Linked DNA regions of Homo sapiens. The protein of the gene in region 1 purifies or fractionates together with the protein of each later gene. This does not show direct contact. Each region holds a gene or a part of one and is shown on either strand. Other genes may lie near its edges.

Region 1 (3,751 bases):
CAGAAATAATATAATGGTTTTGGACATAGCCAGGTCCGTCTGTATCTTGAGACGTAACACAAACTATGGTTCAGATCACACATCTCCAGGCTTTTCCTGCTAATACTCATTTGCTTGCTGCCTCCTCAGTTGTTTTGTTGTTACCATCACCAGCCAGCTGGTGAACAGGAATGAATTCCAAAGAAGTAAGAAGAAGATCATGGAAGAAAAACCTATAATTGAGAACATCCTATGTTCTTGAAAAATTTCTTGAAATTTGGGGAAAAGAAGCCTATTGCTCAATATTCATTGTAAAATGTTTTCATTCAGGCATCAGAGGAGCTCTAGTATTTCATGGGCACCTGATTTGGTAAACCATAGTAGCCAACTCTCCAGCAGTCTCATGGGAGAGAAAACAGCTATGGAACTAGGCTTTGGGATCACACCCCAGTGACATAGCCTTGTACAGGGGCACATGGCTTCTAGCCCTGGCTGTGAAACTGAACTCACAGGTGCTCAGACACAGGATGGACATCTCAGGTGGGCGGCAGTGCCAGAATGACCGACAGCACAGCATGTATCATCTTCATTGCTTTCTAATTGCGTGACCTTGAGCAAGTTATTTAACCTGTCCAAATCTTAGTTTTCTCTTTTATTTAGTCAGGATTCGAATTATTCCTACTTTGCAGAATCATTGTGAATATTAAATAAGCTAAGACTTTGAGCACAGGCCCTGGTACACAGTGAATGTCCCCAAAATGTAAGCTGCTGTTATTCTTCATGTTTTGTTTTTTGGTGGAGGATAACAGTTGACTGTGTATACAGAACAGACACAAAGCTAAGCTAAGTCTTTGAGGCAGGGAAGGGAGACTCCAGATCAGAGGACAAAGAATCTGAGGGACGTCAGGCCCCTCTTCTCTCCTGGGAAGTTGAGATCCCCTTCAAGGCCATCAGGATAGGATCTGCTTGTCACCTTAAATGAGACTGTCTGGTTGGGGTGATGGCCCATGGTCTCCCTCCTCTTCCAGAAAATGCTGGGTTATTAAATAGCAGCTCAGGGCTTTCTTATCTTCCCCCACTGACACTTCTTTCTCCAAAGACAGCCCTAGTGCCCCCTCCCCTCTTCTCCACCCATAGTGTTAGAATTCATCAGCAATTCTTATTGCTTGCTATTGTTCCCATTTTTCTAATGGGCTCCCACATCAGAAAAATCCATTTTGTAACAGTAACAGGCGTTCTTGCTAACAGATTGTAATTGAAGAGATAAACTGGGAAGAGGAAGCAAAAAGAAAGAACCATTTTCCCTACTCACCCCAAAGCCAGAGAAGGCTGGCTTCAGGGCCTGGAATTGGTGGTGGACCCTCAGAAACGGTCAGTGCTCAGGCTGGGGAGAGCAGGAGCTGCCTCGGCCAAGGAGCTCTCGTGCAGACACAGACAGAGACATAGACAAAGCACAGCCCAGAGGCCAGGGAGCAAGTGACGCAGAGGCCCAGGAGCTTGGAAGAAGAGCGTTTAGCCTGGGAAGAGAAGAGATTCTGGGCAGAACCACTCATAAAATACTAATAATATCATTTATTTATTTATTTATTTATTTATTTATTTATTAATACATAGTGAGCATTATGCCCTTTACATTATCTAATTTAACCTTTCTAGCCTCCCTAAGAAATTGGTATACACCCTTAAAGATAAAGAAACTAAGCATAGAGATGTTAACCAGGTAACTTGTTCAAGGGTACAGTGCATTAAGGAGAAGAGCTGGGATTTGAACCTAGGACTTGCTGATGCCCAAATCTGGGCTCTTGAATCACGTATCTGGGAGGACTACAGATTGAGCTGTGGAGTCCCAGGCTGGACAGAGAAGTTGGAGTGGGGGCAGGCATTTCTTAGTTGTACTCAGGAGAGGATGGGAGGGATACTCCCACTTTTTGGCCTGACCCTATGAACCTGGACAGAGCCCCAGAGACTCAGATTATGACCAGCCTGGTGACCACCTGCCCCATCTTCTTCCCTGGAAAGCTGACACTTCAGGTTGCCCACCAGCCACCAGGCAAGTAACCAGTGGCCTCTGGAAAAGGTGTACCTGAGGAATATCTGAGAGAGAGAGAGAGAGAGAGATTGTGTGTGTGTGTGTGTGTGTGTTGGGAGAACAGAGCTATTCTGTACTGAGGCTCAGACGTGGCCCATTAATAATTAATAATAAGCTCTGCCAGGGCTTGTAAGTTTATTAGGAGAACCGGTGTAATTAAAATTCAGGGCTGGGGGGAGGGGAGCAGAGGGCTTTTGCTTCCTTTGCTTCTTTCAGAGATCCAGACTGAGCTACCAATGGGGATAATTAGCAGAGTCCAAACAGAGAAGGAATTAATGCTCCTGAAAAAGCTGTGATGAGGAGAGACAATGCCAAGCTAATTACGGCCGCACCAAGCTTTATGACTGGGCGCTCACTTCCACCATCATTAGGGGATTCAGAGCTAAATCGGAGACTAATGTGGAGTGTTACAGCTAACAGAACATTGGCACTAATTTAACAATTATTAATATTATTAGTTTGGTGGATGGTAACTGTACCTTTCTGCTTGAGGGGTCAGGGCATGTGGCCCTTCTGAATGTGGGATCAAGGCTGGAGTGATGGAGGTGGAGGGCAGACAGCCAGAAATTCTTTTCCCTCTATGCTTCTCTCCCTGTTTGTACCTGCAACTAGTGAGAGGAGGGGTCTGCCTGGGTCCTCGGGGAGCAAGAAAGAGTTCAGTGCTCCTAGAAGAAAGAAGGGAGGGATGAGGTTGTGTCATTATACTTGGAGGGTCCAGATCTGGATGCCCCTGTTTATTTCTACTTTCAGAGACTCCTCTGATTTCAGTTCCTAAGTGTGACTCAGTCCTTAGAGGCTTCTTTTCCTAAGCAAGAATAGAAAGGGTGCCACCCAGTTTAGTCGGAACTTTGTCTTAGCATGCTTTCCCCACTCCAGACAACCCTATACAGACCATAAAGAAACCTGGTTTGATCCAGATGCCTCAATGCCACTCCTCACTATTTGCAGCCACATGTTATACCCCTAACTCTGTGGACAGGGAAGATAAACTTCAGACAGTTAGAAGAGAACATGTCTTTTGTACAGAGCTTAGAGGGATGACACATACTGAAACCACCATCCCTACTTGACGTTCTCATCAAAGTCAGAGGGAGAAGAAAACTTCTAGAACTATAAATCTAAGGGCTCTACAACTCTTAGATACTGGACCCTGCTTCTAGAACTCTAAAGCTCAAAACACACTAGTCAGAATATCATCTCCTTGGGTTCTAAAGGATTGTGCATTGTACCTTTCCTCAAAAAGGGCAAAATCTGCAGAATTCCATCCTTCCAGTGAGAAGGACAAACATCACATAAATTTCATGGCCACAAGTAAACTGGAGTTAACCACTCCCGGCTGCCAGCCTAAGAAAAACAGGGAAGCTTGAGGTCTCCTGTCAGGTTTCTGCATTTGCTGGAGCACTTCTGGACCTCTGCTTGCTACCTTAAGTCCAGAACCCATGCTGACCATACCTAAACCTCTGCAGCTTGGCTTATGGAAAAAGTTCATTCATTTCTACAAGGCAAATGACACAATGAAAGGTGGAGAACTGCTTATTAGTGTTCACTTGGGGTGTATTAAGGAGAATAGCAGGCCTATGGCTTCAGAGTTTTTAAAGAAAAAGGGGAAACTTGCTTTTAGTTTGGACAGTTTGTGTACAGGTGTTTCCAAGTCAGGGTCTGATTAACTGAGACTTCCTGTGC
Region 2 (3,751 bases), on another chromosome or scaffold:
TTGGTGCCCGAGGTCCCAGTTGTGGAACTCTCAGTTGTGCCATAGCCTTTGGGTCCCCCCGCCCAGCTAGGCCAGGATCCTTGCCAACTGGGGTATTTACACTTTCTGTTGGACTTCTCTTCCGCTTGTCTGGTTCTGAGGGAAAAATATCAAGAGGTCAAGAGAAGTAGTGAGTAGGAATCAAGGCGCAGATATGAGGTGGGAGGAGCCAGGATACAGGAGGGTGCGGAATGGAAGAAGTTCAAGGAAAGATGAGCTGATGTCTTATTTTTCGTAACAAAGAATACCCACTGCGTATAAACATGCATTAGAAAATAAAATCCCAAAGCCTAATGGGAAGCAGCGTGGCACTGGGAAACGTGTCCTGGGTACACATATATTTTCTCTTCAGGAGACAAGTGGCAGAGTTAGGGATGGCGTGGTGCCCAGCAAGTACGATCCCTACCTTTACTATAGTAGTGGGTCTGGGCAATCTCCAAAAGCCCAAAGATGCTGGCCATGCCACCCAGACCCGCGTGGGCATAGGACTGCTCCAAGCTGAGGACTGTACACTTGAGGAGGTCTAACATTCCCTTGTACACCTTCCGACTGATCTCCTGCAACAATAACCCAGGGGCTAGCGTTGGCAAATTGCCTGTGGTGTTCACATCCCTCTCTCCAGTTACTCCGATTCCCTACCCCCAACACTGACCACATCCGGGATGATGTCCTGCCGGGCATCGTCCTCTGACTGCACCATGCGGTTCAGCTTGCTCAGGACAAAGACTCGCAGCTGCTCGCTCTCCAGCAGCCGGCGCACCTTTTTCATGTTGAGCCAGCCAACTCCCTGGCCGTCCAGCACGCTGTGCACCACCTCCTTCAGGAACTGCTGGTTCTCACTACAGGGTCCACACACCGCTTCTGTGGTCATCAGCTCCTTTGCAGAGCACCCCCCACCTTTCACCCAGACTAGATGTCTGCCTCCAGGGGTAAAACACAAAGCCATGTCTCTGAATGTCCAAGTGCACCACATCCCCACCTCTCTGGAGCACGCGATTTGTCCAAATACCCACCGCTGCTGATTAACCCCCCTCAACACTGTAAGCTTTCAGTTGCATGGAGATCAAGCCAGAATGAGAAGTGCTGGCAAGAAATTGATTACATCTACCCCATTGAGAGCTTCTCTCCCACTCTTGAGCATCCCTAAAGTTCTGTAGAGGAACCACCCCACCTCTGCCTGAGAACTTTTAAAACAGCTCTACCATTTATTACCTAGAATTGCTGGATCGACCCTGGGGTGATGGAGGTTCTCTTTTCACTGTTGGGCTGTGTTTAATGACAGATGACTTCTGATCCACTAACGCCCTCCTGTTTCCTGTGGCAGGGAAGGCAGGAATGAGAGACATCACTATTGTAGTACAGGAGCTCATGCCAGCACAGCCCTAAGTAGCCATGTTCCATGCCCGTTCCTCAGAAGGGCTGGGTGAGGGTAGCACCAAGGCATCATACGTAGGTAGAAACCAGCCATGGCAATGTGGAGGAGGTGGGGATGGAGACTCAGGCCACTCCACATGCACCAGCAGCAAGCCCCATGGGCAAGCATGGGCGTCACGGGGGACGGGGCAAGCAGGTCACTCATGTGACGCTGCTTGCTCCATGAGAAGGATGGCCCTCGGGCAGGCACAGAAGATGCTAGAGAAAAAAAAAAGATCATGCACAGCTCACAGGCAAGACCCACCTTCACCACTCCCGGGGCCGGCTTCAGTAACAATCTCCATTAGAGTATTTAGCCCAAATACTGGGACACAAAATACACAATTAGTAGGTGTACCACAATACCGCAACCCCTCTACCCCTCCGAGGAGCAGTAAGCCAGATAATCTGAGCATTCTCCCAAAGCTTGAGGAATGCACATAACCTTGGTTCTTGGGCACCTCAGAGCTGGAAGCCAAGTGACCAGGAGACAACCAAGGCTCTAAGAAAAGACCACCCTTAAAACTGGCCTCTCAAGCCAGGGGCGGGTAAATGACACAGGGAGCCTTCAGGTACTGAACACACACATGCATGAAACAGGGACCGCTGGTTTTCAGAAAACATCCAGCACAGAGGGCCAGGGGCCTGAGGGTATGTGCAGGGAAGCAACCCATCTTGCAGATGCTGTTGTGGGGAGTGGGGTCAGGGTATGAGGATGGGAGATGGGTGAGAGGGTAAGTGCAGCAAATGCGACAAAGCATCAGCATGCAATGAAAGAGTTTCAATCGCTCTTCTCTTCAAATGTACCAAATGAAGGCCAGTGACACTGACACCCTTCCATCCTTAGCCTACCCGGCCACATGTGGATTCCCTGGCAGTGCTAGTTCGCTCCTTTCACTGCCAGCTCTGATGTCCTTTTGCCCATTTATCCAATGTTCCCATCCTCACCTAAGAACATGTCTTAGACTCCTGACAACTTTGTTTGTTTCTGTTGGCTTCTTTTAGAGACAGGGTTTCACTCTGTCGTCCAGGCTGGAGTGCACTGGCCTAATTATAGCTCACTGTACCTCAAACTCCTGGGCTCAAATGAACCTCCTGCCTCTGCCTAACAAGTAGCTAGGATGACAGGTGTGAGCTACTGCACCCAAGTAACCTGACATTTTTTACCACTAGGAATGAGAGGTCAGTTAAAGAATACATGAGGTTGGCCAGGTGCGGTGGCTCACGCCTGTAATCCCAACCCTTTGGGAGGCCAAGGCGGGTAGATCACAAGGTCAGGAGATCGAGACCATCCTGGCTAACACGGTGAAACCTTGTCTCTACTAAAAATACAAAAAATTAGGCAGGCGTGGTGGCAGGCTCCTATAGTCCCGGCTGCTCAGGAGGCTGAGGCAGAATGGTGTGAACCCGGGAGGCGGAGCTTGCAGTGAGGCAAGATTGCACCACTGCACTCCAGCCTGGGCAACAGAGCGAGACTCTTGTCTCAAAAAAAAAAAAAAAAAAAAAAAAATACATGTTTCTCACTGCACTTCCTACCACAGTTAAATATTTCGTCATACCATCCAGAGAAAACAAAAAAATCAGGCCAGGTGCAGTGGCTCACACCTGTAATCCTGGCACTTTGGGAGGCCAAGGTGGGCAGATCACTCAAGGTCAGGAGTTCAAGACCAGCCTGGCCAACATGGTGAAACCCCGTCTCTACTAAAAATACAACAATTAGCCAGGCGAGGTGGTATGTGCCTATAATTCCAACTACACGGGAGGCTGAAGCATGTGAATCACTTGAGCCTGGATGGCGGCAGTTACAGTGAGCCAAGATCACCACCTTGCACTCCATCCAGCCTGGGTGACGGAGTGACACTGTCTCAGAAAATAAAAAAAATAAAAAATCAAATTCAGAAAAGCCCCTGAAACTGTCAGATAGCACAAACCAATTCAAATAAGGTTTCGTTTTTTGTTTTTTGTTTTTTTAAGACGGAGTCTTGCTCTGTCACCCAGGCTGGAGTGCAGTGGCGCGACCTCGGCTCACTGCAACCTCCGCCTCCTGGATTCAAGCGATTCTCCTGCCTCAGCCTCCCAAGTAGCTGGGATTACAGGTGCGTGACACCAGATGGCTAACTTTTGTATTTTTAGCAGAGACGGCGTTTCGCCATGTTGGTCAGTCTGGTCTCGAACTCCTGACCTCGTGATCCACCCGCCTCGGCCTCCCAAAGTGCTGGGATTACAGGCGTGAGCCACCGCGCCTGGCTTTCACATAAGGTTTTAACTGCCCCTAGAAACTAACCAATACTACCTGGCG
Region 3 (3,751 bases), on another chromosome or scaffold:
GATCTAAGGATTGGATGGTAATAATGAATCAATGTTAATTTTCTACTTCTGATGGTTATACTGCTAGTACAGGAAAATGTCCTTCTTTGTAGAAAATACACACTAAAGTATTTGGGGATTGCTATGGTCTGAATGTATGTTCTCCTCCCCCAGAGTCATATGTTAAAAACTAACCCCCTAGGCGATGGTATTAAAAGGTGATTATGGAAGTGATTGGAAGGTGATTAGACATGAGATTTCTGCCCTCACAAATGGGATTAGTGTACTTATAAAACAAGCCTGAGGAAGCTTGCTTGCCCCTTTGGCCATGTGAGGGCACATAGAAAGCGCCATCTATAAGGAACAGGCCCTCACCAGATACTGAATCTGCTGGCGCCTTGATCTTGGACTTCCTAGCCTCCAGAACTGTGAACAATAAATATCTATTGTTTATTAATTACCCAGTCTAAGGTATTTTGTTATAGCAGCCCAAATGAACTAAGACAAGAGTGAAAGAGTATTAGGTTGGCAAACAAAGCATAATTTCTTTGTCGTTATTTTTTTAAAGGAAAAAAATGTGGGGTGGAAACAATAAATTAATATTAAAATTGGTAAGCTAATTGTGATCAATCCATTCAGGAAAAAAATAGAAAGGGAACCATGAAAGGTGGTAATGCTCACTGAGCCTAAGGGTAAAAAACAAACTAGATGTAATTCAGCAACATGAGACAGTAGAGAAGCACTTACTATTTTAAGCTACCACACTGAAGTCTCATGTCGCTGACTGAGCAGGCCAAAAAAGATTCAAGAGTGTTTCTGTCTTGATTCATTAGTTTGTAGCTCCAAAACAGATAGCTTTTCAATTTATTATATTAATTTTGAGCAGTCAGGGTACTCTTGTCCTCAGAGAACACATAACCCAGAAAAGTTTCATAGTGAAGATGCTAATAGAAGCTGTCTGTACCTTGAGGAATCTCTAATGTTCTTAATCAGGAATGTGACCACATAAGTGTTGTGCTTTGGGAGAGACAATCTTTGGAAAGCTGATCTAGCCACACAGATGACCCAGATCTTATGAATCCCCATAAAAGATTCCAGACCACTGCTCAATATAACAATTTCCCGATAGTGGTCTCATTATGGTTAGCAACTCCATATATATTGCATCTCTGGTGATAAAAGAGGAGATCTAGAAAATTGTGGGGGCATTTTTGGTTGCCACAATAATTGGAAGGGGAGTGCTATTGGCATTTAGTGGGCAGGACCAGGAATCTGGACATTTTGAAAGTGTCTCAACAAAAAACTGTGTTGCAGCTGGTACAATTTTCAAATGTCCCAATAAAAGTTCCCATGGGTGAAAAACCTATCTACAATTATCTGAGTTTAGAACCTAATTCCACTTTACAAATTAGCAAAAAGTAGTTTTGTAGTTTTAATACAAAACAATAGTTTTTCCAGGAATGTAACAGCTATGTAAATGAAGAGAAAACTCATACTTTTTGTTGTTCTTATTGTTTAGAAGATTACAAAAAGTTGTTTACTATTTCAGAAAATCATGGCAATGCTGCTCTGATGCTCTGGAATCAATAACACATTTATTTCTGTCTTCAAATAATACTATTTCAAATAATACTGTGAAATAGTACAAATATCTGATTGTTCTACTATAGTTGTCCTCAAGTATTTACATATTGAAATACACATTATTTTAAGTATTGTACTTTTTTTATTCCTCCTTCATATTTCAGTTAAGATTTTATATTGATTTATTTTTAAAGATTATATGTACCTGGACATGTTATATCTGAATTTCATTTCAGGATAGTTCAGGGACACTGCAAAAAAAAAGTTTTTTAATAAAAAGGGGACATTAAAACTGATGAGAGTAAGGTAGGAATCACTGGTGTAAGCAAATCATGGTAATTCCACGCCCCTCGGTAGGACTGGTGGAGCACAGATACATGATCCAGTTCTGCCCAATGAGACACGATGGAGTATCCTGGAGGGACTTCTCTTGAGTGAGGAAGAAATGGTCCCTCTTCCTTTTCATGTCAGTTTGTGATGACTAGAATAGTTGTAAGCATCTTGCTATCAGCTTTAGGGTGAAGTAAGCATACTGAGGAGGCAGCTCCAAGAGAATCAGAGAGGTGAAGCTGGAGCCCTGAGATCCTGCATCTGAAGTCTGCCTTCCCTTTGGACTTTCTGCTATGTACTGTGATAAATTCCTTTATGTGACATAACTTTTATTACAGTCTGTTGTTGTAATTGCTCTCTTTTATTTTGAGTTACTGTTGTTCATTTCTTACTGTGCTGAATTTATAGCTGTCTCTCAGTATCCTCAGGGGATTTATTCCAGCACTCCCATGGATACCAAAATCTGAGGATGCTCATGTCCCTTATATAAAATGATGCAGTGTTTGCATATAATCTGTGCACATCCTTCTGTATATTTTAAAGCATCTCTAGGTTATTTATAGTACCCAATACAGTGTAAATGCTATGTAAATAGTTGTTATATTTCTTGTTATTTTGTATTGTTGTATTATTTTATTTTCTGAATATTTTTGATCTGCAGTTGGTCAAATCCTCAGGAAGCAGAACTGGTGGACATGCAGGGCCAATTGCATAAATTAAACTTGATTATAGGTATATATGTATAGGAAAAAACATAGTATATATAGGGTTCAGTACTGTCTGAAGTTTCAGGTGTCCACTAGGGGTCTTGAAACTTATCCCCCACAGACAAGGCAGGGGGACTACTGTATATTGAAGTTAAAATCTTGACTCTGTGATTTCTAGCTGTATAACCTTAAACAAATATCTTAAGCCCTCTGAGCCTCAGCTTCTTCGTTTATAAAATGGAAACAAGAATACCTGCTTTATATGGCCATTATAAGGATTAATAAGCTAATACTTGTTAAGCTCTTAACTCGGTGCTTGGCATGTTGTAAGCTTTCAGTAGCTCGTGGCTATTATTAACTATTGTAATTAAAAGGAGAAAAGAAAAGAACTCACAGCAGTCTGAGCAGTGATGTGTGTGCAACCCACGATTTTGGCTCCAGCCAAAGGCTTTTCTCCTTGAGCTCTCTTCCTCAAAGCCATCAATGCAGGCATTTCTGAAAAGGCCCAATAAATACAGCAATATTAAAGAAGAAGGAATAAGAGATAAAAGAACAAACAGAAAAACTTGTTTTCTTAAGTTAAGATCCTTCCCCTGATCAGGTTAGATTAGGTTTCTCCAGGGATCAAGACATTAAACCTGTATTTTCCTTTATAAAGGGCTTTTGGAGGCAAATGCTCCAGGGTTCTGATTCTCTATATTCCAGTCCTTATCCAGTCTCTCTCCCTTTTTTTTTTTTTTTTTTAATACAGGGTTCCTTCTAGACTTGCCAGATTTCCCCAGTGTTTCTTGAACTCACATTTCTTTTGTTATAAGTATTCTTATCACATAGAAATTTCACAAGCTACCAGACCCCAGACATAAAAAGGGATTAATATGGACAAAAAGACACAGGTAGGTTAAGAAGGAAAAGGTGCTTGTTTTCTTTACCTTGTTCAGCAATTTCAATTTCTCTTCGTCCAAACTCTGCCTGTTTGATGTTCTTAACACAGAAGTCACTGCTTCCCTTAGAGTTCTTTTGCTGCTTGTCCCTGGGCGATGTCTCATCATCAGAGCTATCTGTATATGAAGCCGCTGGAATGACAGAATAAAAAACACTCGGAAAAAAAAAAATGCTTCCTCTAAAATTCCAAACCATGGAGCAAACTGAAG

The links.
Region 2: the proteins of SYT6 (region 1) and MADD purify together in Homo sapiens (affinity purification with mass spectrometry; 3 studies listed by BioGRID and IntAct, with this or other methods). This does not show direct contact.
Region 3: the proteins of SYT6 (region 1) and AHCYL2 purify together in Homo sapiens (affinity purification with mass spectrometry; 3 studies listed by BioGRID and IntAct, with this or other methods). This does not show direct contact.

The regions. Positions count from the first base shown.
Region 1 is NC_000001.11:114,147,120-114,150,870, forward strand, and holds part of SYT6 (synaptotagmin-6), read right to left. Parts: intron 1-3,751.
Region 2 is NC_000011.10:47,286,994-47,290,744, reverse strand, and holds part of MADD (MAP kinase-activating death domain protein), read right to left. Parts: intron 1,778-3,751; coding exon 1,718-1,777; intron 1,355-1,717; coding exon 1,252-1,354; intron 957-1,251; coding exon of another isoform or gene 879-956; coding exon 692-878; intron 597-691; coding exon 446-596; intron 136-445; coding exon 1-135. UniProt on the Homo sapiens protein: Guanyl-nucleotide exchange factor that regulates small GTPases of the Rab family. Converts GDP-bound inactive form of RAB27A and RAB27B to the GTP-bound active forms.
Region 3 is NC_000007.14:129,388,978-129,392,728, reverse strand, and holds part of AHCYL2 (adenosylhomocysteinase 3), read right to left. Parts: intron 3,674-3,751; coding exon 3,530-3,673; intron 3,096-3,529; coding exon 2,995-3,095; intron 1-2,994. UniProt on the Homo sapiens protein: May regulate the electrogenic sodium/bicarbonate cotransporter SLC4A4 activity and Mg(2+)-sensitivity. On the contrary of its homolog AHCYL1, does not regulate ITPR1 sensitivity to inositol 1,4,5-trisphosphate.